4 separate regions of the Homo sapiens genome follow, and all the other regions are linked to region 1. Evidence: fine-mapped expression QTL. A gene starts in region 1. Each other region holds a variant in brackets. All regions are shown on one strand. Distances are between the middles of the regions. Region 1 holds the start of ERCC6L2-AS1 (ERCC6L2 antisense RNA 1). Region 2 overlaps ERCC6L2 (ERCC excision repair 6 like 2). Region 3 overlaps ERCC6L2-AS1 (ERCC6L2 antisense RNA 1). Region 4 overlaps ERCC6L2 (ERCC excision repair 6 like 2).

Region 1 (8,110 bases):
GAGGGAGTCCACAGTATACTATTGGTACAATTAAAAAGTATCAAATAAAGAAAACTAAGTAAAAATAATTTTCCAAATGGAATTTCTTATGGCAAGAATCCAAAAATAATTCTATGGCTACAAACATAAGAACACTAGGAATTATTTTTCCTATACATTTCTCACTGAGATCAGATAACCACTGGCAGTTTCCTAGGGTCTTCCTGATGACCTCCAGTTAGATATTTATAACTACAACATGACATGTTTATACTATCTAAAGCAAGAATAGCTCATTAAATTCCTCATCCATCAGTTGTTCCTTAAAAGTAAAGCCACTAACTTTGATGAGGTTATTTTACCATAACAATAATGAGTACAGAGGGAAAAACCTTCTCTCCCACTCTACTCTCTGGACCCAAACTGTTGACAACTGTTACACCATTCTAAAAGAGTGTTTTAATGTCAAACTAAAGCCTCGATCCACTGTACAAGTAGAACAACATATAGGTCAATGGGCCCAATTTTCATAACAGTACTATTTGCACCTTAAAACCTAAAGCAACCCTTACAGCAATTCTTAACACATTACTTATATTTCCCATTATGTGTTTGCCTACCCTATCATTTCTTAAGACTTATTTTATTATCTATTATTCAACATATGTGATTTAAGCACAAATTATTCACCAAATATTATACCACACAATGGGTATAAAATGAAGAAAACTAATGTCAAAAATGATGGTGACTAATAGTCTTCCTGCATCTTATTAACTGGCATCATCTCAGAGAAATGCAAATCAAAGCCACAATGAGATACCATCTCACACCAGTTAGAATGGCAATCATTAAAAAGTCAGGAAACAACAGGTGCTGGAGAGGATGTGGAGAAATAGGAACACTTTTACACTGTTGGTGGGACTGTAAACTAGTTCAACCATTGTGGAAGTCAGTGTGGCAATTCCTCAGGGATCTAGAACTAGAAATACCATTTGACCCAGCCATCCCATTACTGGGTATATACCCAAAGGACTATAAATCATGCTGCTATAAAGACACATGCACACGTATGTTTATTGCGGCACTATTCACAATAGCAGACTTGGAACCAACCCAAATGTCCAACAATGATAGACTGGATTAAGAAAATGTGGCACATATACACCATGGAATACTATGCAGCCATAAAAAATGATGAGTTCATGTCCTTTGTAGGGACATGGATGAAACTGGAAATCATCATTCTCAGTAAACTATCGCAAGAACAAAAAACCAAACACCGCAGATTCTCACTCATAGGTGGGAATTGAACAATGAGAACACATGGACACAGGAAGGGGAACATCACACTCTGGGGACTGTTGTGGGGTGGGGGGAAGGGGGGAGGGATAGCTTTAGGAGATATACCTAATGCTAAATGACAAGTTAATGGGTGCAGCACACCAGCATGGCACATGTATACATATGTAACTAACCTGCACATTGTGCACACGTACCCTAAAACTTAAAGTATAATAAAAAAAAAAGCTGGCATTTAAAAAAAAACAAAAAACTGGCATCATCATCTAACCAACTTTTCAAGGTAGAAAACCATTAGTCAGCCCTTAAACCTCATTTAATATTACTCCTTACATCCAATCCATCAGAATATCCTGGTTCTACTTCAAAAATGAATCACTTTCCTCCATGCCACTATCTCTCTAAAGCAAAGGCTGGCAAACATTTTCTCTAGAGTCAGTTATTAGCTATTTGTTACTTTAGATTTTGTAGGCCATACAGTCTCTTGCCCTTGTAATGCAAAAGCAACCAGACAATACATAAACAAATGGGCACAGTTGTGTTCCAATAAAACTTTATTTACAAAAAAAAGTGTCAGACCAGTTTTAGCCCACAGGCAGTAGTTTGCAGACCTCTGTCTTAAAGCATGCCACCATCAACTTTCCCTAAATTATGCCTAACCAGTCTCTCTGCTCCCAGTCCACCTATTTAGCGTAGGGTACCCATTATTCTCTATCTCATCATTTTATTGCCTCTGTAGCACTTATCATAACATTTAATTATCATGTCCACTGGTTTTTTGTCTTTTCCTTCCAGTAGAGAGTAATTTCCTTTCCAAGAAAAGTTTGTACTGTTATAAATTTTATCCCCAGGACCAACACAGAGTCACACAGCAGACATTCAGTGAACATGCGAATTTATTACACATTCTTTTTTTTTTCTTTTTTTTTTTAGACAAGAGTGTCTCTGTCGCCCAGTCTGGAGTGTCATGGCACAATTATAGCTCACTGTAAACTCCAACTCCTGAGCTCAGCCATCCTCCCGCCTCAGCCTCCTGAGTAGCTGGGACTACAGGTGTGCACCACCATGCCTGGCTAAATTTTTTATTTTTAGTAGAGACAGGGTCTCGCTTATGTTGTCCAGGCTGGCCTCAAACTATCCTCCCGCCTAAGCTTCCCCAAAGTACTGGGATTACAGGTGTGAGCCATGCGCCTGGCCTATTACAAATTATCAATCTCACAAATCCTTGATATCTTGCGAGAAAACTAAAAAGTACACCAACATATACATAACTGTAAAAACTGCATTGGAAGAAGAGTGCTATGAGAAGGGAGTATTGAGAAATGTAATTTAAAAGGGAAAGGGGTCTAAGAACTGTATCTCAGATAAGTGTACAGCATGTGCAAAAAAAAAAAAGCCTTAAGGGAATCACACAACTTATTGGAGTATTTTGGGTTTGAGTTCGGATAATTTCTAGGACGAAATAAATTCAGTTGAGTTAGAAATGGAATCTCTCAGTATCCAAACTACAGAACAACTGCTTAAATTGTTAAGATTTCCTGTTGGATTTAACAGGGAAATGGGTTAAGTGTCCTAAAATTTAATGAGTCGAAATCATTTGTTTTGGTTTAAACTAATTACCAACTCAACTCATTCTGGTGATAGGGTCTCTCTCTCCCTCTTTCACTCCAAAGGCCTCCTCAAGCATTCCTCAAGGGTGTTCCCACCTCGGGGCCCTGGAGCTTTCTGCTCCTTCCACCAATTTCCCTAAATACCAAGAGTGACTAGATTTATCAAAAGGAATGAGCCTCCCAGTCACAATATCCACTCGGCAGCTTCATCTATTTTTAGCTGCCAGTCTCCTATAGGTATTTATATGTTTGGTCCCTGAATTACAGCGTCATCAATTCCTAGACCTCAGAATTCAGGCTTGTAACTTGCCCTCTCTGAACTTTAGCTCTGAATTCATCTATTTAATGAGATCGATATCTTCCTCAAAGGAAAGCAAGTAAACAATCAGCATATTGCTGGGCTCAGGAAAATCACTCAATACCTGGTAGCTTTTGTTATACAGCACAATTATTAATGAAAACTACTCATTTGGGTGCCAGAAGGCATCCCAGGTGACTTGTGGTAGATAATCACACCTTCTTTAAACCTCCTATTTAAGGCAGAATATAATGCCCTGACTCAATAGGCAATAAAACTCAACTGAACTAAATATCTCAACCTTCATTTATCTACTTACAACAAACTTCTGCCATTCACTAACAACTGGGGCATACAAGAATAAAGAATGAAAATAACATTTACTGAGTGCTTAATATGGGCCACACGCGGGGTCACATAAATACTTTGCGTATTCCCCACGTCATTTAATAATCGCAAGAACCTAGTAATGAACCCAGTTTTACAGATGAGGAGCCTGCCCAAAGTTGCTCAGCAAGTAACTGTCAGAGGCAGCACTAGATCCCAGGGGCTGACTCCCGAGTCCAGGTTCTCAACACTGAATCGGAGATTTGGTTCCAGGCCTGGAGGGGTTCACAATCTGCAGCTGTCACTGAAGAGGATCTACAGGGCAAAACCCCAACCCGAAGGGCACCGGCAAGAACTGGTCCAACGCGACGCAGTACACAGGCCTCTGCGTAAGGGGCGAGCGCGGAGCTGGTACCTTTGCCTGAGGTTTCCGCGCGGGGCTGTGGCGCCGACGGATCCATCCGGCCAGGGGGAGGGGCCGAGCCCGGCTGCATGTAACACCCGGAAGGCGGCGGAGGACAGCAAGGTGGCTGGCCGGCAGGCCAATGGCGGCCAACGCCACTTCCGGCCGCCCTCCGAGCATCGCTCTTCGGCAACCCGAAGCCACAGGATGGAGGAGGGGGATCCCAGCAAAGGTAGCGACTAAGGGGACCCAAGCAGAACGGGAGGGCGACGTCCGGAGCGGCGGCAGAGCCAGGGGACGCTGTGTGAGGCTGGCAAAGCGGTGTTCACCTAGTTCTCTCGGGCTCCGCCGCCGCCGGAGGAGGACAGGAGGCCGGCAAGGCGACCCCCAAATCTTCCTAGGCTCTGACTTCCGTCTCCTAACCCCCGCAAATTCCAACCCGGTCTTGGAAAATCCCGCGAGAACGGGCTCCCGAATTGTCATTGGGATCTCGCGAGAACGAAATCTTCCTTTCTGTGGGCGGAGCAATCTTCCCGATGTCTCTTCCCTCTGAGGCCAGTAGCAGGAAGGGCCTCGGGAGTTGCGAGTGTCGCGAGGTTTGAGGTCGCTCGGTGGGCCGGGCGCTGTGCGAAGCTAGAAATAACTGGGGGCATGGAGAATGCGGTGGCTGTAAAGGGCCGCTGAGGCGGTGGAGGCCTGGCAGAGAGCGTCCCCGCGGTCGCGGCTTCTGGCTTCTCTGTGGAGCTTGGTTCTTCCGTGGTGGTGCAGCACCCCAGGAACTTCAGGAACCAGTCCTTCCTTGGAGAGCTCCCCGGGACAGCCACGGGGGCCAAGTGAAACTAGCGCGTTTTCTTGGATCCTACACTTTATAGTGAGTCATAAATACTTTAAATACAAAGCCAACAACATTTGCTGCAAATAAACGTAAAAATACTGTTAAAGTGTAAAGTGTTTTCCTCCGTACCATCTGACGTTTCTGGCGGTTCGTTGAACGCGAGAGAACGCTGAGCCGTCTGCACTGAGCCCGGGAGCATCTTCAGGGCAGCGCCGCCCACGCGCGAGGTGAATGAAGGACACGGCCTCTTGACACTCCCAGGCAGCACAGATAGACGGATCCGTAAGTGGCTCCCGCGCATGTTAAAATTTGTATACTGTAAGGTATTTCATGGATTGAGTGAAATACCTGACAGGGCCTGTATCCGTTCCCTATTGCCACAATAACCAAAAACCACAAACTTTGTAGCTTGAAACAGCACAAATTTATCATCTGACAGACAATGCATTTATTATCTCACGGTTCTGTAGATCAGAAGTGCTACCTGGGTGTCACCCGGGCTGCACTCCTTTCTGGTGACTCCACAGGACAATCCTTAGCTTGCCTTTGCCAGCTTCTGTCCACATTCCTTGGCTTTGGTCCCTTCCTCCATCTTCAAAGCCAGTGATATGCCATCTCTCTGAACCTTCCATCCTCAAGTCTACCGCTGATTGCAGCTGGAAAAGATTCTGAGGGCTCACCTGAGTAATCCAGGATCATCTTCCCATTTCCAGGTCTCTGCCCTTGATCACATCAGCAGAATCCTTTTGCCATGTAAGCTAATATATTCACGAATTCCGGAAATTAGGAGATAAACATCTTTGGGGGATCATTATTCTGCCTACAGTAGTGTCTTAAGAAAACAATATGGCTGTTTGCAAATAGATCTCAATTCTATGGCAGATACTAAAAACTAGTAGTATGTGTTCATAAAATGCTTCATTTAAAATATGACTTGTTTGCTTACCAGCAGGCAATAACTTTAAGCCTAAGTGAAACATCTAACTCAGCCATCTATGTGTGAGTTGTTGGCCAGATCACTTCTCCGTGTTTTATTGTACTCACCTATCACCATTACAGTGAAGCTAATAATAGTAAACTACCTAAAAATGGTAATTGTAAAAAATTAGATAATTAAGTAAAACTCCTAAAACAGTAGCTGGTCATAGTAAGGAATATATGTGTTGTTATTACTATTATTATCAATGGAATGCATCCACTTGAAAGTTGCATTCTACATAGCCATTATGTCAGTTTAATATTTTGGCTAATAGGCCGGGCGCGGTTGGCTCATGCCTGTAATCCCAGCACTCTGGGAGGCCAAGGTGAGCGGATCATGAGGTCAAGAGATCAAGACCATCCTGGCCAATATGGTGAAACCCCGTCTCTAATAAAAATACAAAAATTAGCTGGGCGTAGTGGCACATGCCTGTAGTCCCAGCTACTCAGGAGGCTGAGGCAGGAGAATCGCTTGAACCCGGGAGGTCTATAGAGGTTGCAGTGAGCCGAGTTTGCGCCACCGCACTCTAATCTGGCGACACAGCGAAAAACACTACTAATTATAATTGTAATTCTTGATTCTGACATGCACCCTGATATTGGAAATCTTAAAATCTAGAAAAATCTGCTGCTTGTTATTGATGGATTATATCTCTTTTCACATTGTCTCTAAAATCAAAATGGCAAATTGAAATTTTAATCAAGCTTCTTTTTTTCCCCTACAACTACCAGGGAAGAAGTTTGATTTTTTTCCCCTCTCTGAAATGACTAGTTGTGTAATTTTGTCTTATTTTTCCAGAGGTCCATTGAGTTAAGATGTAGCTCTTGACAGAGCAGACCTCTTAATAGAAGTGATAAGCAAATTCAGAAATAAATTTTGATTTAAATGGGAGGTATCATCTGGTTGAAGGAATACCCTTGTGACTAACAAAAGAGGAGGATACCTCATTTTCTTTTTTTTTTTTTTTTTTTTGAGACGGAGTCTCGCTCTGTCGCCCAGGCTGGAGTGCAGTGGCGGGATCTCGGCTCACTGCAAGCTCCGCCTCCCGGGTTCACGCCATTCTCCTGCCTCAGCCTCCCAAGTAGCTGGGACTACAGGCGCCCGCCACTACGCCCGGCTAATTTTTTGTATTTTTAGTAGAGACGGGGTTTCACCGTTTTAGCCGGGATGGTCTCGATCTCCTGACCTCGTGATCCGCCCGCCTCGGCCTCCCAAAGTGCTGGGATTACAGGCGTGAGCCACCGCGCCCGGCCCTCATTTTCTGAGTGTTTATTATTTAACCTCACTGCTGTACTTACAGTGTATACTGAAGCAGAAATAATCATGACATGAAAATATGTCCTAGTGAACTAGTTGCCTCATAAAGTTAGACATTCTCAAATATTCCTTCCCCCAGTAGCTTTTGTCTTTGCATTGACATCCTTGTCTAGGTGCTGATATTGTGAACATCTAACGCTGTCAGACCAGTCACTTCAAAGTTAAACTGAATATCTTGTAAAATATTAAGGAATTCCTGTAGTTAATATGTGTGATGTTGGATAAATCACATGAATGAACTGAATCACATACAAAACTTTTGGCAAAGGAGGATCTAGCAAAAATTAAGCCAATTAAAACTACAAAAGAGAAAAAAATAACACAGATGGTGATAACACAGGCATTTCAAAACAGGCTCATGGAAGGATGATTAAACCCACCAATAATTTGCCAAAAAATAGTCTCTCTTTATCTTCACACTGCAAAAGTCAAATATATATCTGTATGTGGTTGACAGATCTCCAGAATTGTGAGTTAATCTAGCAAAAAGGCTCCAGAAAAAAATAGATATGAAACTCTAAGACAACACAAGAAATTAAGTCTTTTGAGTTTTAGTTAGATGATTTTAGGTTGCAGCATTTCTCCCTTCATACGTCGTTCCAGCCAATAAGGAAGCAAAGATGAGTGAAGGCAAGAGAAAGAAGATAAAATAGACCTGTCCTTCCTTGCCACAAATAACCTAAATCTTAAAGTTTAAAACTCAACGTTGCACAACAGTGTGAACATACTTAACACTATTAAACCGTACACTTAAAAATGGTTAAGAAGGTACATTTTATATAATATGTTCTTTCTTATCACAGTTTAAAAAGCAAAACACAACAAAAAAGCTCCGGCCAAAGAAAGGAAAATTTGAGGCTTGAATGAGGTATAGTGAAAGATATATAGAGTCAGTGTTAGAAGTATATCATGGTCCCATATAATGAATATCATTACACCTTGAATATTCACCAACACCATTTTTACTTCATAGACTCAATAAATAGACTCAAATAATAGAACATTTAATACCTCATGTCAGATAAGTATAAAAATCCTGCAACAAAACACCAAGAAATAC
Region 2 (8,110 bases), 53 kb before region 1:
CAAACCCAAATGTCCTGATTGAAAGTTCAGTGCTCAGTAGAAACTGAATTTTCTCCTTTGGAAAACTGCTTATTAGACATACCATGAAGATGTCATAGAGACTTGACTGAACTCTAAGAAAAGAATGAGGTGGGATAGGGAGAAAGTATTAGAAAGGATTAAAAAAATGGATAAGTTAGGGGATTGGGTGGAATTTAGACAGCAAAAAAGCAGAAACGAAGTTAAAGGTTTCTATGTTGAATAAATCTAATCAACTGTTCCAGTTACCTTCTTGATGGCAAGGTCAGGCATAACCATGTATGATGCCATCTCAGATGCCATATATGAGCCACAGATAAGATCTCTACTAGTTGAGGTAGCAATCTTCCAAGAGATTCTGAAGTAATAACTTCAGTCCTTGCTGAAGAAGCAAAGCTCCCTTTAAAGAAGAAGAAAAAGGCCCTAGACTCTCTCTCTCTCTGCAGATGAGATAATTCTCCCTTTGATGATAATACAACTCAGAAACCTAAACTTTAAAACTTGTCACTCTGTTCTTACATGGTTAACAGCAAAGGGTTACTTGTTAAGCAAAAAAAATTTTAATATTGCTCTTTTCGAACTGAGGACTGGTATTTGAGACACTTAATGAGTATGCAGGCTGTTTATTCCTTAGGTCTGCCACATGCTCTTCCTGTATCAAATAAGTATATCAGAAAGTACACCTTAACTACATCTTAATGTTCTACAAACATGTCTTTGATGAAATAAGTTTTATTATTATGTATTAAGTATTATAAAAGGTCAAACGAAGTATCCATTTGAACAATGCTTCTAAGAAAACCTAAATAAATATAAAGAGATACCATGTTTATGGATAGGGTGGCTTCATACCTTAAAAACTCCAATTTTCCTCAAACTCATTAATAAATTCATTGATTCTCCAAAAACAAAAAACAAACCCCAGGAAAAATGCCAGATGATCATTCTTTAAATAAACTGAATGAAATGACTATAAAAAGCTAGAGTTTAACACACTGATGTTCTAAAACAAAAGGTAACTCCAAAAACAAAAGAGGTCAGAAAGCAAGAAAAACTTTAGATTAAAAATGTGATGGCAGAAATGGTGGCTCACACCTATAATCCCAGCACTGTGGGAGGGCGAGGCAGGTAGATCACGAGGTCAGGAGTTCAAGACCAGCCTGGATAATATGGTGAAATCCTGTCTCTACTAAAAACACAAAAATTAGCTGGGTGGGGTGGCACAGGCCTGTAGTCCCAGCTGCTCGGGAGGCTGAGGCAGGAGAATTGCTTGAAATCCGGGAGGCGGAGGTTGCAGTGAGCCAAGATTGCACCATACAGCCTGGGCCACAGAGTGAGACACTGTCTTAAAAAAAAAAAAAAGTGATCATTTCAAACAAAATAATAAGATCGAAAAATGACATTTCTCAGAACAGAGCAAAAAGACAAAGTCTGAGAGAAAAGTTCAGAGATTTAAAGAACCAATATAGTTTGAAAGTTTGAAAGTCTGATGACCTGGCATGCCAGAGGGAGGGAGCAGAGAAAAAGGAAGAAAAAAAAAAGGCCATTGTTAAAGAAATAATAAAAAAGCATTTTCCAGAGTTGAAAAAGAACATAAGCCTTCAGAATACAAGCCTACTGTACCCAGCACAAAAAAATGAACGAAGATCCACACCAAGACTCAAATATCACCGTGAAATTTTAGAATAGTGTAGATGAAGAAAAACTCTTACGAGTTCCCAAAAAGGAATGAAAATCAGATTGGCACTGCACATCTATTTAGCCACACCATCTATCAGAAAACAATGCTGCAAGCCCTTCAAAGATCTAAGAGGAAATGATTTTCAATTTAGAATTATATAGTTGGACAAAGTATCAATTAAGTGAGAGAGCAATAAAAGACATTTTCTGTATTTACAGATGCAGAAAATTTACTTCCTATATATTCTGGCTTAAAAAGTTACCAGAGGATATTTCCTAGGAAAACAAAGGGGCAAGTCAAGAATAAAAACAGCATGGAACCCAGGAAAAAGATCCAACACAGAAGAGCAGTGAAAGAAAGCTTCAACATGACAGTTCTTTATCAGGCCTAGAAAACTGGGCCAGATTGAAACTAAGGAATAAAAGTTTCAGGAGGCAGGTTCAGGATACAGAGGACTCAACAGAAGAGAATGTGTGAATGAGAATTAGTAACATTGAGGATTATTACAAAGGGCAGAAACAGACTGAGAGGGGGAAAAGACCGAAAAAGTCATGATTGAAATTTGAAGTGAACTGAACAGTGCAAACATAAAACATGGATGAAGTCTTAGGAAAGAGAAGTCATATGAGGTTGATGTTAAGACTGATCTTGCATTGACCAAAAGGTCGTGAACATTAAGAAAAATTATCTTAGCACTACTTGCCCCTGCATTAAAGATGTTTAGTTTATAAAAACATAGTAATGTAAACGCTTTTTTGCCTTCAAATTTTAATGCCAACCTATGGACAATAACCGGTTACTGGTACAGGGCTTATTGAAAACATTAATACCCTTGACAAAGTAAAAGTTAAAATAGTTAACATAATATGTATAGGTGACAAAAGTAGAAGGGTGGGTGGGTGTGTGCTAATGCTAATACCACACATTACAAAGACTTAGAAGGCATGTGGAAAGTTAATGGACCAAACATCAAAACTTGAATCATTTTCCAGTAAAACATGGCGGCAAACCAAGAAAGAAGAAGACACGGGATCCAGGAAAAAGATCTAAGAGAAAATTCAATGGATCTAATGCAGAAGTACAAAGATTGAAAGTTACAAAAGTAGTTTATAGACAAATAATTTTAAAATAGCAAACACTGTGAGAAAAAAACGGGGAGAGAGTAGTGAAAGTAGCCTAATCATCTTTCTTAAGAGAAGTTCCAACTTATGTAAAGTTGATAAACTAAAAGATAATGAAGACTTTGTACTCTGGCAAGATAATGGCTAAGCCAATGTGAAAACATTTCTGTCACAACATATTAAATATAAACCCTTGCAAAATGATAGAAACTAAACAAAAACTGAGCTTATGTGTCTTTTGCAAAACACAGCTGAAGAATGTATTTATTATATTACATAAGGTTCCTTATATAATGACTTATGAAATAAATTACTCAAATTGTCACAGAAAAATAGGAATCCAAAACTTTTTCCCTTGTCTTGTCAGGATGCCCAGCAGAAGCCAAAGCAAAACCACACAAGCAGAAAACTCCTACAACCGGTCTCCAAAGGATTTCCAGAGGAAAAAAATCCCATTGAAGATAAGCTCAAAAGAAAAAAAATGACCAAACATGAAGAAACTATCAACCATAAGCAAGAGCCAGAGGAAACAACAAATAGAAGGATCAGCACCACCAAGTACAGGAGTTAATAGAGCAAAAATGCCATCCAAAAAGATGTTTTTCGAAGTATGATTAAAATTAAAAATTCAATGGATAGGTTAAATAGCAGTTTCTGACAGATAGAGGTGAAGGGGTAATTAGGAACTTTATGGAGGATCTCAGCAAATGAGCTGGAAGTGAGCAGAAGAAGGATAAGAGACTACTGCTTGTCATTATAGAGTCTATTATTGGAACCATTGTTTAGTGCATCTATCAACTGGAAACACTTTAAAGTTAGAATGCTTATATGTTTTATGAAATTTAATTGACCACAGTATTCTATGTCATTTAGTGCTCTGTATGTAAGGACGCATGAAAAAAATTACTTCTTGCATTCCTTTATAGGAAAATGGGAATCCAAAGCTTTTCCCCATTTGCCTTAGTGGTAGGAATTCAAGAATAATTAAAGTGCTCAACAATGTTGGCTCATTCATAAGTATATTTTATTCCTCATTTTAAGTTAATTTCTATTCTGATTTAATTTTTACTTTGTGCATTTTATATATGTTTATTTTTAAAGTCCATTGAAATTCTGAAAGACAGTGGGAGTGAATCTATAAAATTCTTATTACACAGGATGTCAAAAGTTATTGATCTGTTCCTTCCTAAAATGGGATTAATCTTACTTAGGTGTTTATGTTGATTTAAATCTTTTCAGAAGTGTGTATATTCTCTAAAAGGTCTTAAAGGGATATTCATACATAGGGGTTAGAACCAATTTACCTTTCATAAAAACTCTAACTGCAGAGCTGCTCCAGTTGAGATGAGGTAGAGGCAGAGGAGGGAAACGTGAGCCCCTAGCCCCAGTGGGCTCTCAAGGGCTCCCTGACACAGTGGGAAAACTGCTGCTACAGTGAGTCTCAGTTATCCAGTTAATAAGAAGTCTGATTATTCTCACCAGGAGACTTGGGTCAAAACACTACCATGGAAAATTCATAGGAGGAAGTATCAATTTTTTTATTGTTACCTTTATAAACCCAGACTTCTAAGAGGAATTCAATGTTGATAAAGGAAATGAGAGAAAAGCTTAGCTAAAACTTAAGACATTGAAATTTCGGTCATAATAGTATTTTTGCTG[C/T]TTCTAAATAAGCATAGCCATTAAAAATTAATCCAGTAATAGTTTTAAAAATTATGCTAAATCTCAAAAACAATTGGATAAAAATCTAGTTATTAAATTTAATTTTCTTACATTGTAGAGACAAGGCAAATGTTAACATCTTGTGTACTGTTGAACTCTTTTACAATCTTGAGTCTTTCCTCTGATTTTGTACTTCCATCAAGTCGTCGGTAATCAAGCCCAGACGCCATACAGTACTGCTGTAGCACGTCAAGCAACTAGACGAGAGGTATGAAGATGGGCAAACATGAATCTTGGTTAAGTAAGTTTCAGACCATTACAAAGTTGAGACTTGTTAAGTATTAATTATTGGTGTTCATAATTTCTTTCTTATAATTCCAAGAACAATAAATATTTTTCTCACTTCTGACCCATATATTTATTCCCGTTATCCTGCAACATTATGGCTTTAACATTCAGAACTTGTTTTAAAAATCAATCTTTTCATTTTTAAGAAACAAACAATATTACTGGTCAAATCATTTACATAAATATATGCATGCTATTTTTTAAGTTCTAAAATATATGAAATGTCTTAAAGAACATTGTAATTATTAAGAACATCAACAGAAAATAAAAATCTATCTTTGAGTTTGATATTTAGCAACCCTGAAACAATTGAAATTTTAGTGTCTGTTTAAAAACTTCAAGTTGCTTACCTCACTATTTCCTACTGTGTAGATAAGAGAAAATGTGGCTGTAAGGTGTCATGTAGGCATATGCTTTATTCTTTATGCCTCAAAAGTTGAGGCTGGCCAATCAAGGATATACTTTAGATGAACTCACCTTGGTGGAAAAAGAAAAGAGAAGAACTTTATCTCTGTTTTTCCTGCAATGATTTAAAAGCTGCTGAAGGACCTGAAAATGAACCACAGAAAATCAGTGAACCAGTTCCAACTAAAAGTACACTTTATACATATAAACATCACTTGAGAATTTCTTTAAAATTATTTTCATACAATACTAACCTCATTCATTTTTTCTAATTCCTTTCATTTTTTCCAAGTTAGAGAAATAAAGTATTAGCTATTACATCAAATGTTATTCATCATCATATTGTCAATAAGGAGGTAAAGTTCCCAAAGACTTTTATTTCATCTCATCTGGTTTTAATAAAAAGGAAGCATTTTGGATTATGGGATGCATTTAAATGGATTAATTTAATTTCCAAAATACACTTTCTTTATACCTACAATATGCTAAGAAACTAAATTATAGAGCAGCATTCCTTTTAGGAAGTATTTAAATTGTCCCTAGATGGATGTAATGAAATGTGTTCAATTACATCTAGGTTCTAAAAGTCTTGATATTTATTTTCTTAGAATAATCAGTCAGATACACACCTCTTCTCATTTTCTCCCCTTTGTTTCTCTATTTACAGTAAGCTCTGACTTCCAGATTTGATTTTGACCTCAAAATGCCAGTAATCTGCCCCCACACACAGTGCTTTCAGGGAGGAAACAAACAGTCCAAAGCCTTGTGTATAACAGTCACACTGTTACTTTTATTTCCACATCTGGCAATGACAGCTCCAGAACAATGTGGAAAAGCAATCCACAGAGGGGAAAAAGAAATTTTCTATACAAAGTCTAAATTCTTCTGAAAGATGAAACAAACACTAAAACAATTTATTTAATGATAAACATTTAAGCTTTTAAATAAAAAAAATACTCAATATAACACTTACTCAATCAAGAGAAGCTATTGTGCTAACTTTGACCTCTACCTCCCCCTAGTCCCTCAAAAAAAGCTATGGAGTTAAAAAAAACTTCTACTCAGATAACCAAATTTATTTATCAAATGGTAAATAAAAATGTTATGGATCGGGTAAACATTACTTTCACATTTGGAGAACATATGAAGTTTTATTTGCATTTAGTTCATTTTTTAATAAAATAACTGATTCTATATGAAGTATGTAATTTGAATTTCACATAAGACTTTTTAAATTGGTAGATATTATTTTTTCTGTTTTACAGAACTGAGTAGAAAATGCACAAAACTCCTCTTTCCCTACTTCCAACCTCCTCCACACTTTCTCTTATTAATATCTGTATTAATAATATTATTAGAAAATATAACATCAAGTATTATTAGTATTGGTGTGGTTTATTTGTAACAACTGATGAGTGAATATTGATACATTATTATTAGCTAAAGTCCATAATTTACATTAGGGTTTATTCATTGTGTTACATAGTTCACGGGTTTTGACAAATATATCATGACATGTATCTACCATTACAGTATCATACACAATTGTTTCATTGCCCTAAAAATTCCTTGTGCTTCACCTACTCATTCTTTCCTCCCCCAGAACCCATAGCAACCACTGTTCTTTTTACTGTCTCCATAGTTTTGCCTTTTGATAGTATTATATAGTTGGAATTATACAGTATGTAGCCTTTTCAGACTGGTTTCCTTCACTCAGCAATATGCATCTAAGGTTCTTCCATGTCTTTTGGTAGCTTGATAGCTCATTTCTTTTTATTGCTAAATAGTACTCCACAGTATGGCTGTACCACAGCTTTTTTAATCCATTTACCTACTGAAGGACATCTTAGTTGTTTCCAAGCTTTGGCAATTATAAATAAACTCATAGGTTCTTGTCGGGATGTAAGTTTCTAACTCATTAAAACTCAATAAAATTTAATTCATTATAACTCATTTGGGTAAATACCAAGGGGCACAATTGCGGGATCATATAGTAAGACTATTTAAGGTAATATTTTTTAGTTAAGAGCTTTGTGAGAAACCACTGAACTGTCTTCCAAAGTGACTATACCATTTTGCATTCCCACCAGCAGCAGATGGGGGTTCTTGTTACTCCACATCCTCACCAACATTTGGGCTTGACAGTGTTCTGGATTTTGGCCGTTCTAATAGGTATCTAGTGGTATCTCCTTGCTGTTTTAATTTGCAATTCTTTAATGACATATGTTGTTGAGCATCTTTTCACATGCTTATTTGCCATCTCTATTATCTTCTTTGGGGAAGTACCTGTTCAGATCCTTTGCCCATTTTTCAATTGGATTGTTTGCTTTCCCATTGTTGAGCTTTAAGAGTTACCTGTATATTTGTAAACCAGTCCTTTATTGTTTTGCTAATATTTTCTCCCAGTCTGTGGTTTGTTTTTCATTCTTAAGATATTAACATTTTAAACCAAGGATATATTGTATAGAAATCCATTCTCATTATTTGGGGTGGTATCATAACTATTGCAACTTTAAGTGTTTTCAAGTATTTTACAGTAAAAACAAAAACAAGTCACAGGAAAAGTAAATGTTTTTAGACTGGAGATCTTAATTAGGCTAGTTTAAAGAGACTAACTAAATGAACGACTATAAATTAAGATCCCAGAAATTTCCAAAATGACAATGTAATCAACAGATGTTGGAGTCTTAACAATATAGACCCAATGTTTTATCACTCAGTTGTCCTCCACAGAACAAGACAATCCACCTATAAAGGAATCGTATTATTTGGGGGTGTTAACAGCAAGGAACCTTGGATCTTAACTTTCCTCAACTTGGTCAGTCAGGCCTAGAAAGATGAACATGACCCTTGTGTGACTTCAGCAGCACCAAGCTGG
Region 3 (8,110 bases), 66 kb after region 1:
GCAATCAGAAGACACAGAACCAAGACTCATATCCAGTTATAAGATGGCAGATGGGACACACACTCATCAGGCTTAGTGAGCAGCCAATCCAGAGGGAACCATACTCAGCCCTAGGGGCTGGGCGCGGTGGCTCTCGCCTGTAATCCCAGCACTTTGGGAGGCCAAGGCGGATGGATCACCTGAGGTCACGAGTTCAAGACCAGCCTGACCAACATGGAGAAATCCCATCTCTACTAAAAATACAAAATTAGCTGGGCATGGTGGTGCATGCCTGTAATCCCAGTTACTCGGGAGGCTGAGGCAGGAGAATCACTCGAACCCGAGAGGCAGAGGTTGTGGTGAGCTGAGATTGTGCCATTGCACTCCAGTCTGGGCAACAAGAGTGAAACTCTGTCTCAAAAAAAAAAAAAAAAAAAAAAAGCCCTAGGAAGATTTCTTCAAACAGATGAAGCTAATGATATCCCCAGTGTGTTTGAATATATTGAGAGATCACACAATAGGGACACTGTTTAGGGTTGAATTAATAGCAAGCAAATGGGATGCTAAGGAAATATAAAGAATAAAAGTTCAAAGGGAAAACAAAATGTTATTCAAGAAAGTCAAAACATCCATCGTAACTTTTTTTTTTTTTGAGACAGAGTCTCGCTCTGTCACCCAGGTTGGAGTGCAGTGGCGTGATCTCAGCTCACTGCAAGCTCCGCCTCCCAGGCTCACGCCATTCTCCTGCCTCAGCCTCCCGAGTAGCTGGTACTACAGGTGGCTGCCACCACGCCCGGCTAATTTTTTGTAATTTTAGTACAGATGGGGTTTCACCGTGTTAGCCAGGATGGTCTCGATCTCCTGACCTTGTGATCTGCCTGCCTCAGGCTCCCAAAGTGCTGGGATTACAGGCGTGAGCCACCGCGCCTGGCTCGTACACTGTTTTATATACCACTTGCAGTATCATGATTGTATAAATACTAAATATCTATTGATCTATCCAAAACTACAACATAAGTATTTTTGGAATATGGAGGAGTGGGTGCTGAGTATGCATGGGAGAAGGGAGGCTGAGGTGAAGGTGGGAGAGAAGGAGACAGTGAAATATTCATCTTCCAAATTGGAAACTCAAATAGATAATGCCTAAACATGAAATATCAATAGAAATGTAATATTTAAACATATGGTGGTGCTTCTGGGAAAAAGAAAAGAGGATGGAGAAGACTGTTTGTTTGTATGTTTGTTTGTTTAAACAAGCAATATGGATGAAATTACAGGCTAAGCTGCTTTAGCAAAAAGACACCAAAATACAGAAGCTTAAATGAGGTAGGTATAAGTTTCTCTGTTTGATATGATCTCAAGAGAAGCAATCTGGGTTGGAAAGTCACCTTTATGATCCTCAAAACGTAGCTTCCACCTGTGGGACTAAGGCAGCCATTCTAGTTTTGTCTTCCCAGCCAGAGGGAAGGAGGACAGGGTCAGGAGAGCACATGTGCATAACTGATAGGAACATGCCCCAGAAGGGCCACACATCCATCGGTCAGGATGTGGGCATAAGGACCACAGCTGCATGGGAGGCTGGGAAGCATAGGGTCTAGCTGTTAGCCACGTGCTCAGCTAAGACACTGGAGCCCTGATATTAAAGAAGGTGAGGAATGATGCTAGTGCTCAACCAGCAGTCTCTGTCACATCAGCTTTGCAGAATCATTTGATTCTTTCAACTAGGTGCATATACAACTTCAATACAAATGAAAACTAAATATAAGACATGGTTCTTAAAAATCATCTTTTGTACAATTGAGGACACAATCAAAACCCAGACACCAGGGTCCTGAAGCAGAATGCAGGCATCCACAGAAGAGGCGGTGCTGATGGACTGGACCCCAGAGAGTCCACACCTGCTTGGTGCCATACCTTGGGTCCCTCCAGATCAGGATGCTCCCAGCAACTTTTCTAGGATGGTTATACTGCACATGCTGCAAAGATGAGTGGGCATCCCTGCAAGCCTATGGTTTTAGAGTAAATGGTTCCAAAAGAAGGTATGAAGCAGACCCATAGATGGGGATTAGTGCATAGGAGGTTTATTGGGGAGTACTCTTGGGATCAACATCTGTGAGCAACGAGAAAGAAGCAGGATTGAGCAGGGAAGAAGGTGGGTGTTCTGGAGCTGAGATCAAACTTCAGAAGTGTTGTGGCAAGGGGGCCCAGTATTGGTGAGTCTTTCAATGTGACTGCTCCAAGAACTCACAGCTTGGGGGTGTCATCTCAGGTGAAGTTGTTGTGTTCAGCCTGGGCAATTCTGGAGAGGCCTGACAAGTGAGGCCTGCCCCTGCAGAACTCCTGGCAGCTCAGGGAACACATTTTTCATTCCTGAGATGTTGCTTCACAGCATCTACTCTGTGTGGATCCAAGGAGCTGCCTCTGGGTCTCTGGGAAATCAGTCGTTTGAATTTGGATTCCAGCGTGTGGCTCTTACATTTCTTTTTAGGAGAAATCCAATAGTGGTGCTCTCATTATGATGACAGAGGGGCTGGGAGGTGCCAGGGGCCCAGCAGGGAAGTGGCAGGAGTACAGCAGCATACTGTGTAACCTGGGCTAGGTTTTTACTCAAGGTGGCTTAGGACAGCTTTTGAAGATTACAGGGAGAAGAACCTAAAATATAGGCAAACCAGATGATAACTACCCTGCTTTCATCTGTGCCTCAGGGTGATTAGTCAGCATTTGTTGGTTAACATGTCAAGAACCCTGTGATTTTGTCAAATATATATTTGGTCTTTGACTCCATTTTCTGACATACAACTCCTAAAATCCTTATAATCTCCAAAGTGATAGTGTCTTTTTGTATGCTTATGAGTTGACTAGTGGCTGACAGCCTCTATGTAGCTTCAGGACAGGGACTGGTCACAGGAAAGACCAAGGCAGCATTAGAGGGTCGGGACTCTTAGCCCCCTACTCCCACCTCCAGGAACCAGAGAGGGTGGAAAGGTTGTTGACCACCAATGGCCAATGATGTAATCAATCCTGCCTACAGAATGAAGCCTCCATAAAAACCCAAAAGGACAGGGTTTGGAGAGCTTCTGCATAGCTGAACACACGGAGCTTCCTAGAGGGTGGCACACCCGGAGAGGGCATGGAAGCTCCCTACCCCTTCCCCCGTATCTCCCTCTAAGCATCTCTTCATCTATATCCTTTGTAATACCCTTTATAATAAACCAGTAAACCTATGTTTCCCTGACTTCTGTGAGCCACTCTAGTAAATTAATCAAACCCAAAGAGTGGGTGGTGGGAGCCCCAATTTGAAGTCAGTTGGGCAGATGTTCCAGGGGCCCCAACTTGTGACTGGTGTCTGAAAGGGAGATCAGTTTAGGGTACTGAGCCCTTAACCTGTGGGATCTGAGGCCATCTACAGGTAGATAGCCTCTGAATTTTTTTTTTTTTTTTTTTGAGACAGAGTTTCACTCTGTCGTCCAAGCTGGAGTGCAGTGGCTTGATCTTGGCTCACTGCAACCTCTGCCTTCCAGGTTCAAGCGATTCTCCTGCCTCAGCCTCTCAAATAGCAGGGATTGCAGGTGCATGCCATCACGCCTGACTAAGTTTTGTATTTTTTAGTAGAGATAGAGTTTCTCCATGTTGGCTAGGCTAGTCTCACACTCCTGGCCCCAAGCAATCCTCCCGCAAAGTGTTGGGATTACAGGCATGAGCCACAGAATTGAATTGAATTAGACACTCAGCTTGTGTCTTCTGCTTGGTGTCTGGGGAAACCCCCACATTTTGTCACTGAAGTCTTCTGTGTTCACTATTTTTTTTTTTTTTTTTTTTACGTAAGAGCAGAGGAAAAACTGTGTGAGTTTAAGTAGTTGACTCACAAACCCTAATCTTAATTTAGGTTCCAGAATGGCCCAAGGCAAAGGTTTTAAATAGTCCTTCTCCATCTGCCCTAGAGGGTTTATTTGTTATCACAGGGGTTGTTAGAAGGAAATTTTCTTTGAAGAAATGAGTGATGCTAAGGCATGTAGTTGGCTGAAGAGACTTCCACTGGCACCTCCTCCCTTGATCTGGCAAACCCAGCAGCTGACCACCTTTGGAGTGACAGAATCTCTCTCTCTTTATGGATAGAATTCTGTCCTATGGTCCCCACCTAATGGAGAGCCACCTATGTCATCTCTGTCACCTACTCTGATGTTAAAATTTTGTTGTGACCACAACAAAGTAAATATTTCCTGCAAGATGCTTTCCAAAGTACCTAAAAAGACAAGAGAATGAGAGGAGGAGGTTGCATGGCTATTTTTGTACTTACCTCCCAATAAATGTTC[G/A]TGTGTATGAGGCAGAATTTGGTCTGAGACTTGCTTTCATTTAAAAACAAGTCCTGGTGAGGTAGTGGGAGGGAAAGGACCTAGACCTTCACCTCCTTCTAACTGCTAGAGGCTACCAATATTTTTTAAAAGAGCCTGATATTTGTGAATGGCTAAATAAGCCCAGAGATTAAGAAAGTAAATGATGCCTCATATTCTTGCTGGTTACATGTTCCAACAATCTGAACAGTAAAGATACCTGAAAAAAATGATTATCAACACATTGGTTTAGTGCAGTGATTGATCATAAAAGATAAATGATCCAGCTGTAGAAATTGGGAATATGATATATGATAATGATAGCAAGGCAAACCTAACCTGATTATTCTAGATATTCATTTGTCATTTACATGGTGTCTGCTACTGGACTTGGCTTTGGGCAGGCTCAGGTTCTAGAAGAGTCTTTCATGCCCCCAGTGATCTGTGGCATGGCTATGGACAATCCCTGGGTTTAACTCCTATGTGTGAAAAATCTAGAGGATTCTAGTGGCCGAACATACAGAAAAGTAAATCCAAAATCTAATCTTGCTTTGATTTATGTGGTTGGAAGCGGGGAGGTTTGGGAAATGCAGTCAGACAAAAGTCATCCCATCTAAATATTAAATGCAAGAGAATTAAAAGGAGACAGAGAATAGAAACCACTGTCAATATGTTGCGAATCTGACAACTCTGGGATTAGACATGATTTTCCCATGTTCCCTCACACAAACCCTCCATTCAGGCCAGGCCTTTGCTCTTTCTATCCCCAAGAGCTTGCCCACCAATTTACACCTTGGCTCATGAAACCTAGGTTGCCCTCCTCTATTCACAAACTCTCACCACCCTTCAGCTATCCCATCCTCATGTATAAAATGCCTCCCCAACTCCTGTTAGCCAGTGTTGATCTCTTCCTGTAAACTCTGTTAACTTTGCCACTTATATATTTCATACTTTTTCTTCTTGAGATTCTAAGTCCCACAAACATTTACTGGGGCAGGCGGACCTTGTAGTCTTGTGAGACTATGGACAGATGAGGACTGTCCATGGTTAGACATGATTAGTGAACAATCCTATACTGGGAAAACACATGCTTAAATGGGACAATACTGAAGTATTATTTGCTGCATTCTGGACTTCTTCCCTTAATCTGCATTTTTTTCTGGGCAAAAAGCCAGAATGGCCCAAGGCAAAGGTTTTAAATAGTTCCCAGGAAGCCACATTCAGACTGCAAAGGCATCCTACTGAAGGGGCCATGGTGTTCAGAAAGGTAGATGTCCTCTGGGTCTTGCCCTGACCCCAAGCACAAGGTCTTTCCCCTTCTGGAGTCCCTGCCGGGTCTCTGCTCAGACGTGGTCTGCCCTGCAGCTGTTGGGCTGGGAGCTGGAGGGCAGGCAGGCAATGGGTGGAAATCAGGGGAACGTTTCTCTTCAAAAACTGCTGTTTGAAGGCAGAAACCAGCTGTGCACCTTTCCTAAGGATTCAGGATGAGGATGTTGGGATTTGAGAAGATAGAAAGATCTAAGTCAAAAGCCATTTGAATAAGGTAGAAATATCTTTCTCCTGAAAGGAGGCTAAACATAGAGACATACCCCAAAGACATGAGAAAATGAGAGTCTTTATACTTGGTGAAAACAAGAAATGAAAGATGATGGAAAGATGCATGCAAATTATCTTCCAGCTTGCTCTTTTGAAGATGCTCGTCTAAAAATAAGATCACGTGGAGGAGAAATGACATGTCTGGTGCTGAAAACAACCCTACTGGGACCAGGAGATGTGGAGCAAAATGTATTCAGAAAGAGACTTTGCTCTGGAAACCATTGCTCACTGCCCTGCTGCCAAGGTCACAGAGAGCTGGAGCTTTGCTGCTGCAAAGCTGTTTACATACAAGGATACACAGGAACGAAAGGTCATGGGAGGTACTTGAGCCTGGAGTCTCCAAAGTCAAAAGACAATAAACACACCAACTTTCAGGGCTTTTAACAAGCACAATCGGGCCAAACAAATTCTCACTTTGGATGTAGATCCACAACATCTTGCAGCAGACGGAAATAGGACTGGGGCAAGAGTTGGTACAAACAGAAATACTAAGTTTATCACGACCAAAATAGGCAATGGAGGGTAAAAGCCCGCAACCTACTTCAAATATATCTGAACTGGTGTTAAAACTAAGCTAGCATTGAAGAGAGGGATAAAATTCAGGAGCAAGTTTCCAAAGAGACTCATAAGAACCCAGAGAGAGGAAAATCTTTTTCAGAAAATTCATAAAAGTTAATGAGTCGCCATTCTGATGTAACGGAGAGAACTTCAGTAATATGACCAGTGATGGAGTTGGTGTGAAATGCATAGACTCCACTATGACCTGACCGGGTATTTCCTCAGCAAATATTTGGGTATATTTAATTGAAATGCATTTGTGGCAAAAGTCAACTCCTACAAAAAAATTGTTAAAATATTCTTCCTGGAAGTTGTCTCCCAAAGTGACTCACATCAAGTAGTCTGAATAAATATGGTGAGACTTGGCACCCTCTGAGGCATCATTTGCTAGGAAGAAAATGCTTTTGAATATCCTAGAACTCTTGGAAAACTTACAGAACCATTGGCCTCATGCAAGCCCATTGTCCCTGTCCAACACACCCCCACATCCCCTTTCCCTCACCATCAGGCACGAAAGTCCTTCCTAAGTCGCAAATGCAAATCTAACTGACTGGCTTCCTTCTTACAGACCAACCACAGCTACTTGTCTTTGAAATTCAACTTCAAGGAAGACAGAAAAGTCTATTTTTAATCAGAGAAAAACCTCAAATTGAGTGCGAATTACTGCCTAGGCCCTGTTGAATGCACACTAGAATCACTTTTGAGATGATCACTAATTTTATGGAGTGATATACACCAGAATGAACTTCTAGCCTGCTTTATAATCAATCAGTTAATCAACAAGTCTGAGTGGAGCGTGTATGCTTTGCGTTATCTGCAGTGCGGCCTGAGGTTACGGGAGAAAAAAATGGCACTGTGTATTGCTTGAATGCTCAGGGCTGCGTTCAACTAATTTTAACCATTGAATCAAAATGATCAGGTAGAGGGCAGGAAATGTAGAATGGCTTGAACAACTACCTCATGAAAACATGCAGTATGCGTTTGTAATTCAGCATCTTAAAATGTCTCTTTTGGCAGTATTTCTTTACAAATGTGGCAAAGCATGATATCTTTGAGTAAATTTTTAAACTTCACAAAAGTTTCTGAAAAAAATATGTACAATCAAAGAAAAACACTTGGAAATAAATTCTGTCTATAGTTTATGCACATTTAATGTATTTTCTCCTGAAATCATTATGCATCAACATTTTTTGAAATTTCTCTCTCTTAGCCTTGTAAAGTCCTAATTCTAGTTTATCACACTTTGAAACAACTTTCCTTCTTTTTTTTTGAGACAGAGTCTCACTCTGTCACCCAGGCTGGAGTGCAGTGGCGTGATCTCGGCTCACTGCAAGCTCTGCCTCCCAGGTTCACGCCATTCTCTTGCCTCAGCCTCCCGAGCAGCTGAGACTACAGGCGCCCGCCACCATGCCCTACTAATTTTTTGTATTTTTAGTAGAGACGGGGTTTCACCATGTTAGCTAGGATGGTCTCAATCTCCTGACCTCGTGATCCACCCGCCTCGGCCTCCCAAAGTGCTGGGATTCCAGGTGTGAGCCACCGCACCCGGCCCTGAAACAACTTTCTATACCCAAACTCAACTGGATCCCAGAGCCAGCCTATTTCACATATCAAATTGAAAGAGTTCTTGCATGAGTGTCATTTCT
Region 4 (8,110 bases), 99 kb before region 1:
TGACTTTTAACAGTATAAAAACCCTTTTGCTAAAAATATAAATTCTATATGAAATGAGTTTTCTATGTTGGTCTTCATTTTAGGTGAAAAATTGTGGAGCAACCTAATCACACACTTTCCTTTTTCCATATAAGCAGAAATGGTTTTGGTTCTGATTGAACTACATGATTCCCTCAGATTCCTTTTCATTTTGGGAGTACTGGCCAATTTTTATTGAGAGAAACTATTAAGCAACTCAACATGATTAGGTATTTGGGTATAAATTTGTTGTTTAATCTAAAACGTCTTCAATGACTACAGTTCCCAAATGGTGTTTTGATTTTTACACTTATTTGTATGTCACTTACAGTTTTTGTTGCTACTTTTGAGGGAGTACTTAGAGAAGATCCTATTGAGTAACTTCTGTGAAAAATGAGGTAACTAAAGATGATACTACCCTATATTTTTCTTACCTTAGAACTGCAAACAGCTATGTTAGCAGGCAGCTGAGAAAACTGCTTCAACTCAAATACGTCATGTGCTGCCCATCGGCTCATGTGATTTTCAGCTTTGCTCGATCCAATTACATTCTGGTTTGAGTGAATATAAGCCACTTCCTGAACGCCATCTAGGAGGTAATTTATGTTTATTAAGTGATGTATCAGTATAAAGCAATATGGTTCCATAAAAACACATTATTCTTATTTTTAATACTCAAGAGAAACATCAACATCACAATATTCTTTAGGAAAAATATTGAAAAGAGAAAGAGTTCAAATATGTTAGTCTGGGTTACCTTGGAAATGACTTTTCCTTCTCATCAATGTGAGATGAGAACTACTGATAGGTAACAATCTTTAAACCTGAAATGGAGGTTTTGGCCAAAAGAAAAGTCAGGGTTGAGTAGGGTCCTCTCTATGAATTTGTTTTCATTGTTAATTAAAAAAAAAAAAAGATGTTCACTAATTTAAAGAATGAAACTAACCTTATCTGTTCCTTTAAACATGTACTTGATTACAGTGATGGAATGAGAGCATGGGGTTTATGACCAGGGAGTTTCGTTTGATTGGCTTTGCTCAGTTTTACTGTTTGTATTTTGTCTTTTTTGTACATATGCCCAGAGAATGTCAAGATGAGAGCTTTTTAGGAAATGAAAAAAATTAACTCATGGCTTTTATCTGAAAGAGGTTTAAAAAATGGCTACAATTTTTATTGCTTTGCTTCTAGGCACCTATAATTCATTTTTGAATTGTGATCATAAAAGAGAAAGCTAGAACCAAGGCCTGTAAAAGCTCCCTGCAACAGCTCTGGCAATGAACCTCAGGTATGACCTTCAACAATTGTGCTGTTTTAGTCCTGAACCTCTTCAATCAGAAATTGCCAATCATGCAAACACAAAACATTGTTAAATAATATGATGAGACAGTAACTAGCATAACATTCTCCTTCATTTCAGAATACCAGGTACTATACATGGCACACAGTTTCAAAACCTTCATGGCAGAAAATTTACTCAGATGTTTCTTAATTTTGATGACACGTTACCATTATTCAAAATAGCATTAGTTCCAAATTAACTACTGACACCTTTTACACAGTAAAAACAAACAAACAAAAAACTGAGTTGATTATTTAAAAAAGTTTATGCAATAATTCCTCAAACCTAAAATCTAACTGTAGCACACCAACCAAAGGGTAATTCAGTACTTATTTATAATGACACCAAGATATAAATCATAATTAACTCTTAAACGAGAATGCTAATAGCCACAAAGAAAGCCTCATTTGTATATAATCAAACACAAAAATTAAGATTTCTATAGCAAAATGTCCTTGCTTATATCTCAGCTTCTTTCATATAGTTTTTGGGGAATAAGTCAGACACTTGTGAAGGCAATGCTAACTCTTAAAATCACCATACAGATTCTGGGCAGAGGGTGGTAACAGCAGAAGAAGCAGGAGAATCTCTGAATCTGTACACAAAAGCAGACAGCAACTAGACAGCAAAACCAAAAGCCCATGGACATTTACAACAAAATTAGATAACAAGATACCCTCATGACACCTAAAGTACAAGCAGGTGGGGAAAATCTCCACTAGCTATGAACTCTGCATGGTTTCAGTATCTGTGTGAAAGTAGGAAGCAACAGGGTACCTGACAGACCTAAGAACAGGAGACCCCAGAACTGCCAACAGGTATTCACCGGAAAGCACAAGGGGCCAGCTGGAGAACAGCAGCTGAATCTGGGAAGGTTTGTTGCTCTTCAATGCTGAGAGGGTGCAGAGGGGACACAGTAAGAAGGCCTGGAGGGGCTGGAGCAGGCCAACCACTAGAACTCCCCAAACTGACCCACCAGGGCTCCCACCCAGGTCAGGGCCCAATAAAGAGGAAAAACTGCTGGGAGAGAATCAAAATAAGTAGGATAGGAAGAACAAGGATGAGGGCAAGAAAAGACCTAGAGCAAAGCAAGGGAGAGAGAGCGAGAGGAAAGCCCACCACAGTGCAGCACTCTACATGGAAATAACATACGGATCTCTGTGAGGTGAGAAAAGATTTCCTAAGCTCTGCTTCATTTGTAAAATTCAGGGGAAATAATTTCATATAAAAATGACCAAGGGAAAAGCAGCAGGGTCAAATCTCAAAAAAATTATTGTGAGAAAAAAGAGAACAAGCAGAGTAATATCCCTTCAATGAAAATGTGCTAGAAAGATGTGCTCACAAAACAGAAAAAGACATGAATCAACGTAAATCAGAATTAGAGCAACTCAAATGAGTGATAAGAACTTAGGAAAGACTTAGAAATTTTTTTTTAAATTTCAAAAATGAAGACTAAACTAGAAGGAACATAAGTGGGAATAAACACAACAGATAAGCCTTAAGAGAAACAAAACAACATTTTAAAAAAGCAAAACAAAATGAACAGATAAAGATTTGAGAGAATGTGACAAAAACTGAAGATAGGCAAAGAAGACTGAACATCTGAAAAGAAGTCCCTGAAGAAGAAAGCCAAACCAAAGGAATAGAACAAGTAACTAAAAACACTGGTACAAGCAAATCTTTCCCAAAATAAAATTTGAGTGAAAACAACACTGTGTATATCAGAATATGGACCCAGGATAACCAACATGAAGACACAAGCTAGTAAAATTATTGGACAACAATGAAAAGAAAAAAACCCCCTGGGCATCCAGGGAGAGGCAAAAAAAAAAAAAAAAAGAACATATAATACCACACTTTATGCCAGAAGAAAACAAAGCTACATATTTAAGATGCTCAAGAAAAGACAATGTGAGCCAAGTATTTTACATCCAGCAAAACTTTTAGGTATAAGGGCACAAAACTGTTACTGCAAGAATCTCAGGGAATATTATTCTCATGAACACTTCTTGAGCAATCTACTAGACAGTAAGATTCAGACAACCAGAACGATGCGAGGAAGACTGACATTAAGGACTGATGGGGAGCATGAAATGTGTAGTTACCTGTGGACCAACAGTTAAGTGAAGTCTAAGAGGGGAGTAGTATACAATGCAATGTATCTTTGACAATGAAGACATAGTATATCCATTTTTAAAATGGAAGAAAAGGGAGAGTAGAGGCAAAAACAGATAAACCCTAAATGTTACCAGCAATCAAATGGAGGTAGTACTGTTATTTTATTCTTTGTGTAATATGGGATAAAGCAAATGAGCAAACATGGGGCATTAAAAGTAAATCATTCCCTATATGCTTGAGAACCAGAATTATCAATATTGTAGAAATGGTATTCACATATAATAAAGAGGCTAAATAAGAGCTCTATACTCTCAAATTAAGTATCAATACAAATATGGACGTATAACCTCGAGGTATTTTATCATCACATATGTGTACATACATATATAAAATATATATCACAAATATACGTATACATACACATATATGTGTATAAATATAAAATACACACACACACACACACACACACA[A/CAAAA]ATCTGGCCACTGAAAAGGCCCAAAAATAATAACCAAGTCAACAGTAGCAATGTTCATTACTAGCACCAGACTGTGGTCTTGAAACACACTTTCTCTCTAAAAGAAACCAAGACTTCTTGGAATAATGACTGATTGTAGGTCTGGGACAGAAAATGTATGAGGTGTTCCTGGAACCTCTTGTAAGACTAGACTACAAGGAAGCTTCCAAAATGACTAGCAGCATGCCAAAATGCTTCAGGAACCAAAATATTCATGTCAGAGATTCCCCTCTATCCACAGATAGGACAATGGAGCCTTAATAATATTATTAATTGCAATGAATTGAGACCCACTAAATGTGTTTGAATCAATTACTAAGAAAAGAATGGGTCATCCTTATGGCATATAGACATATTTAGTTTAATACTAAAAACTGGTAAATAAAGAAAGCAATTAGCATTTTTCCTGTCTCTCCCATATGAACTGCGCCACTGGGTAAGCAATAATGAAGGGAAGTAGTGAAGTACCTCTTTACAAAAGCATTCTAAATAAATGAAAATGAAATCGAAAGAAAGAGAAAATATTTTGCTACTCTGAATGAATAAATAAGTATAGGTATTAAGTATCAATGGCTGCTAGGATCATAAAGAGAGAGAATAAACATTTTGTGCCTACTATAGTCTTGTTAAACACTAACTTATATCTTGCCAAAGGAACTGAACCTGAGTCTGATCCAGTCTCAGGAACCAACTGCTCTTTTGCAGGTAATATAGAAGACAGAAGAACATGTTTAACTGCATGGAGAGGGTACAATTAGCAAAATGCAAACTGAGGGAAACTCTGTAAGAGATGGTCCAGGTACTTCCATAGTTACATTGTAAGGCAATGAAAGGGATGAGGATTCCTGTAGATTAAAAAAGACTATATAATATTTTTACAAAATGGATGAGACTGAACCATAATACCTAGTGATATGGTTTGGCTGTGTCCCCACTCAAATCTCATCCTGAATTGTAGCTCCCACAATCCCCATGTGTCATGGGAGGGACCTGGTGGGAGGTAACTGAATGATGGGGGCAGGTCTTTCCCATGCTGTTCTCATGATAGCGAATAAGTCTCATGAGATCTGATGGTGTTATAAAGAGGAGTTCCCCTCTGCAAGCTCTCTCTCTTTTCCTGCCACCATCCATGTAAGACATGACTTGCTCCTCACTGCCTTCCGCCATGATTGTGAGGCCTCCCTAGCCATGTGGAACTGTGAATCCATTAAACCCCTTTTTCTTCAGTCTCAAGTATGTCTTTATCAGCAGCATGAAAACAGATTAATTCACCTGGGGATGCACATTTGGTGATAAAACCATATAAATGTAAATAAGTAATTACTATAGAGGCTAGAATAATTGGTATTTATGGGGGCAGAGGAACTGTGATTTAGATGGGCACATGGAGGGGGTCCTGGGGTAGATGGCAACATTCTCTATCTTGACCTATATGTGGTCTCCCATTTATCCTGCTACCCAACCGTTCCTTATTTGTGCCTCAATGCAGCATCTTGATTTTAGGGCTGTTTTACAAGTTAATTCAAAGCGTCTCACAGAACTATTTGATAAAACAAATATACTTTTTAAAGTTTTGAGAATGTGTCTTTAGTTACCTAAAAATTTATCCATTGATTCATACGACTGCTCTTGATTAACAACTTTCTCATTTGAACATTTCATTGGTTTTCTTGGAATAAAAGTGCTATTTTTCTTATTATGGCTAGGCAATTTTGAAGAAAAACTAGTTCTGTCTCTTATAGTTCTTGGTCTGTGGCTCTGTTTAGAGAAACTGAAGTGGCTGACGGATAAACTCTCATCTGAGGATGAATAATCATCAATAAACTGAGAGTTATGATCCTCATTTGCTGCATACACTTGGTTTGTTTTGTTCATTGTTTTGGGAGAATTGTGAAGTTCTTTTTTGGTTTCTTTTATTCTCTTAAACCTCAATGAACTAGCTCTCTTTCTTACTCTTGACTTGGAAGAAATTTCAATGTCATCAGATTCATCACTGATATCACTGGTGCCTTTTCTTTTCAAAATAGATTTCAGGGTTGTGTTCTCAGGACTTAACTTTTTTGAAATTATTCCATTTCTTTTGTCATCAGTGTTTCGACTATTATCATTATTTCTTGTTTTTACAGTGTGTTCTGTTTCAGAATCCTCAGATCCTTCCAAGGGTGGCTTAAACCTTATACTATTGTCGGGGAATCTCTCAGTTGTGTATTGTGTAGGACAGATGACATCACTATCTTCTGATTCTGTGACATTCTGTAAAATGCAATGTTTATCTGTATTTTTAATTTTTTTCTCGTCAGACTTGGAAGAAATATTCTGTTCTAAAATCTTCTCACTTTTATAAAAAATATGCTTTTCTTTTGGATTTAGGATGTTATCTAATTTCTGATGTTTTGAAGTACCAAGAGAGTCCTGATTTTTCTCACAACCAGCATCTTTGGCTTCTGTTGAAAGGCATGTGGGCTGCTCATCAGAACTTTCATCATCAGAGGCAGTATTTCCATCACTATCCTCAACTGCTTTACATTTTGTTTCAAGCAATTTCGAGAAACCACACTGGAGTAAGGTAAGCTGTCCTGGAGAGCTGGAAGCTTTACTTGAATCGGGTGCTTTGTTTTTGGCAGTCTTTATTCCTGTGGCTCCCACTGGCTCTTCATCACTGAAGTCACTGCAGAGATCACATGCTTCCTTTGCCAGTGGCTCTGCAGCTTGTTCTGTACCTCTGCATTCCTGACAGTCAGGCTGTCTAGGCTATAGGAGAAACAATGACAAAAACATCAGAAAACCTCAAGATATAATGTGGAATCAACTGAAAAGTACTCAACTTTGGGCAGGTAATTTAGGTACAAGTATATCACTTAATATTTTCTAAAAGTACAACATTTAATAAACAAATGTTAAGGATTTAATATCATAGTCTGGTAGTCTTTTCTCTTTCCATGTTGAATATTGTTGCAAAATAAAAAAATTTAAACTAGAGTACCATATAATCAAAGTATTTTGAAGAAAAACACAAAGTGGAGTGTTTGGCTTCTAAGATGCAAGGACACATAATTCTGGCCTCGAAAGTGAAAAGCATACAACTTACTGCTTAAGAATTACTGGAGTTTACTGTCATCTAGCAGATGCTTCCAATCACGCTTTAAGAATAAGACAGATTACAGGAGTTAACAAGGTAAAGAATTCAAGACTGGAAAATTGTTCTAATTGATTAAAAAGGCCGATAGGATCTTGATCACCAGAAATAAAGAATTTTGAAGTAAAATTTGCTACAAATTTAAATTCAATATGTAACCTTTGCACATTAATCAGAGTTAAATATAACCTAGTTTTCTAAAACTGAGGCTCTACTAGTAAAATATTGCGGAAAGTATTATCTGATAATACTTTTGCCAATATTTGAGATTCATATATTTCTCTAAATTTATAGAAATTTCATCCCCAATTTAAACTCATTGGACTGGTATAAATTGATAGTTAAGACTCTAAAAACAAACAAGAAAAAACCAGCAACAATAACAAAAAAACCTTCCACACATGTTTTTTACCTTTAAGATGGCCTTATGATGAAATAAAGATTTGGTGGTACATGAGATGACAAGCTACTAAAAAGATCACAAAATTAAGGAATCAAATATCTACTTTCAGGTTAGAGAATAATTTTGATATTTGGGTTCAATAATTTTAAATACACATTGATGGTGATTTTTCCATTTAACTTACCATTTAGTCAAAAATTATTTATTTGGGATGGGTTAGTTATCTAGGTGGTACTGGATTTACAGTTTGGTGTAGTTAAAATTCAGTTTAGCTGTAAATGCCTGAACTGCTCCTGAATTTGTTCTTATAATATGAATGTTAAATCAGCCTTAATTATTAATTTTATCCATAGTCCTCTGACTTTGTGTCCTTGACTCTTAATTTTTTTTTTTACAGGTTATAAAATTAAGGAAAAAGGAAAAGAAACAAAATTGTCACAGTACATGTTTTCTAGGTGTTGTAGTCTACAGGTTCAAATATTACATACCATTTCCAGTTTGTGTGCTGGAGGTCCCTCTTTCAACCATGTTGTGGCTGTCATGATCCCTGCTTCTACTTGGCCTTCTCTCTATAATGTCAGTAAGAA

The links. PIP is the estimated chance that this variant, and not a neighbour inherited with it, causes the effect.
Region 2: its variant is fine-mapped to the expression of ERCC6L2-AS1 in whole blood (INTERVAL, PIP above 0.99).
Region 3: its variant is fine-mapped to the expression of ERCC6L2-AS1 in fibroblasts (GTEx, PIP above 0.99).
Region 4: its variant is fine-mapped to the expression of ERCC6L2-AS1 in prefrontal cortex (BrainSeq, PIP 0.95).

The regions. Positions count from the first base shown.
Region 1 is chr9:95,871,906-95,880,015 of GRCh38, reverse strand. ERCC6L2-AS1 (ERCC6L2 antisense RNA 1) reads left to right here and starts at 4,039. Exons shown (of 3, transcript NR_023390.1): 1 at 4,039-4,151. It overlaps ERCC6L2 (ERCC excision repair 6 like 2), which reads right to left and starts at 4,325. Exons shown (of 19, transcript NM_020207.7): 1 at 3,932-4,325. The coding sequence starts at 3,977. RefSeq lists enhancers at 4,115-4,174, 4,235-4,464, 3,596-4,470, 4,605-4,704, 4,745-4,794 and 1 more.
Region 2 is chr9:95,925,345-95,933,454 of GRCh38, reverse strand. It overlaps ERCC6L2 (ERCC excision repair 6 like 2), which reads right to left. Exons shown (of 19, transcript NM_020207.7): 10 at 5,305-5,376; 11 at 4,591-4,736. Among named protein-coding and RNA genes, the nearest start is that of ERCC6L2-AS1, 53 kb to the right of the region's middle. The variant C/T (reference allele first, on the strand shown) is at 4,480.
Region 3 is chr9:95,805,595-95,813,704 of GRCh38, reverse strand. ERCC6L2-AS1 (ERCC6L2 antisense RNA 1) reads left to right here. Exons shown (of 3, transcript NR_023390.1): 3 at 1-7,617. Among named protein-coding and RNA genes, the nearest start is that of ERCC6L2, 66 kb to the left of the region's middle. The variant G/A (reference allele first, on the strand shown) is at 4,293.
Region 4 is chr9:95,970,558-95,978,667 of GRCh38, reverse strand. ERCC6L2 (ERCC excision repair 6 like 2) reads right to left here. Exons shown (of 19, transcript NM_020207.7): 15 at 8,012-8,092; 16 at 5,580-6,735; 17 at 453-607. Among named protein-coding and RNA genes, the nearest start is that of LINC00092, 47 kb to the left of the region's middle. The variant A/CAAAA (reference allele first, on the strand shown) is at 3,946.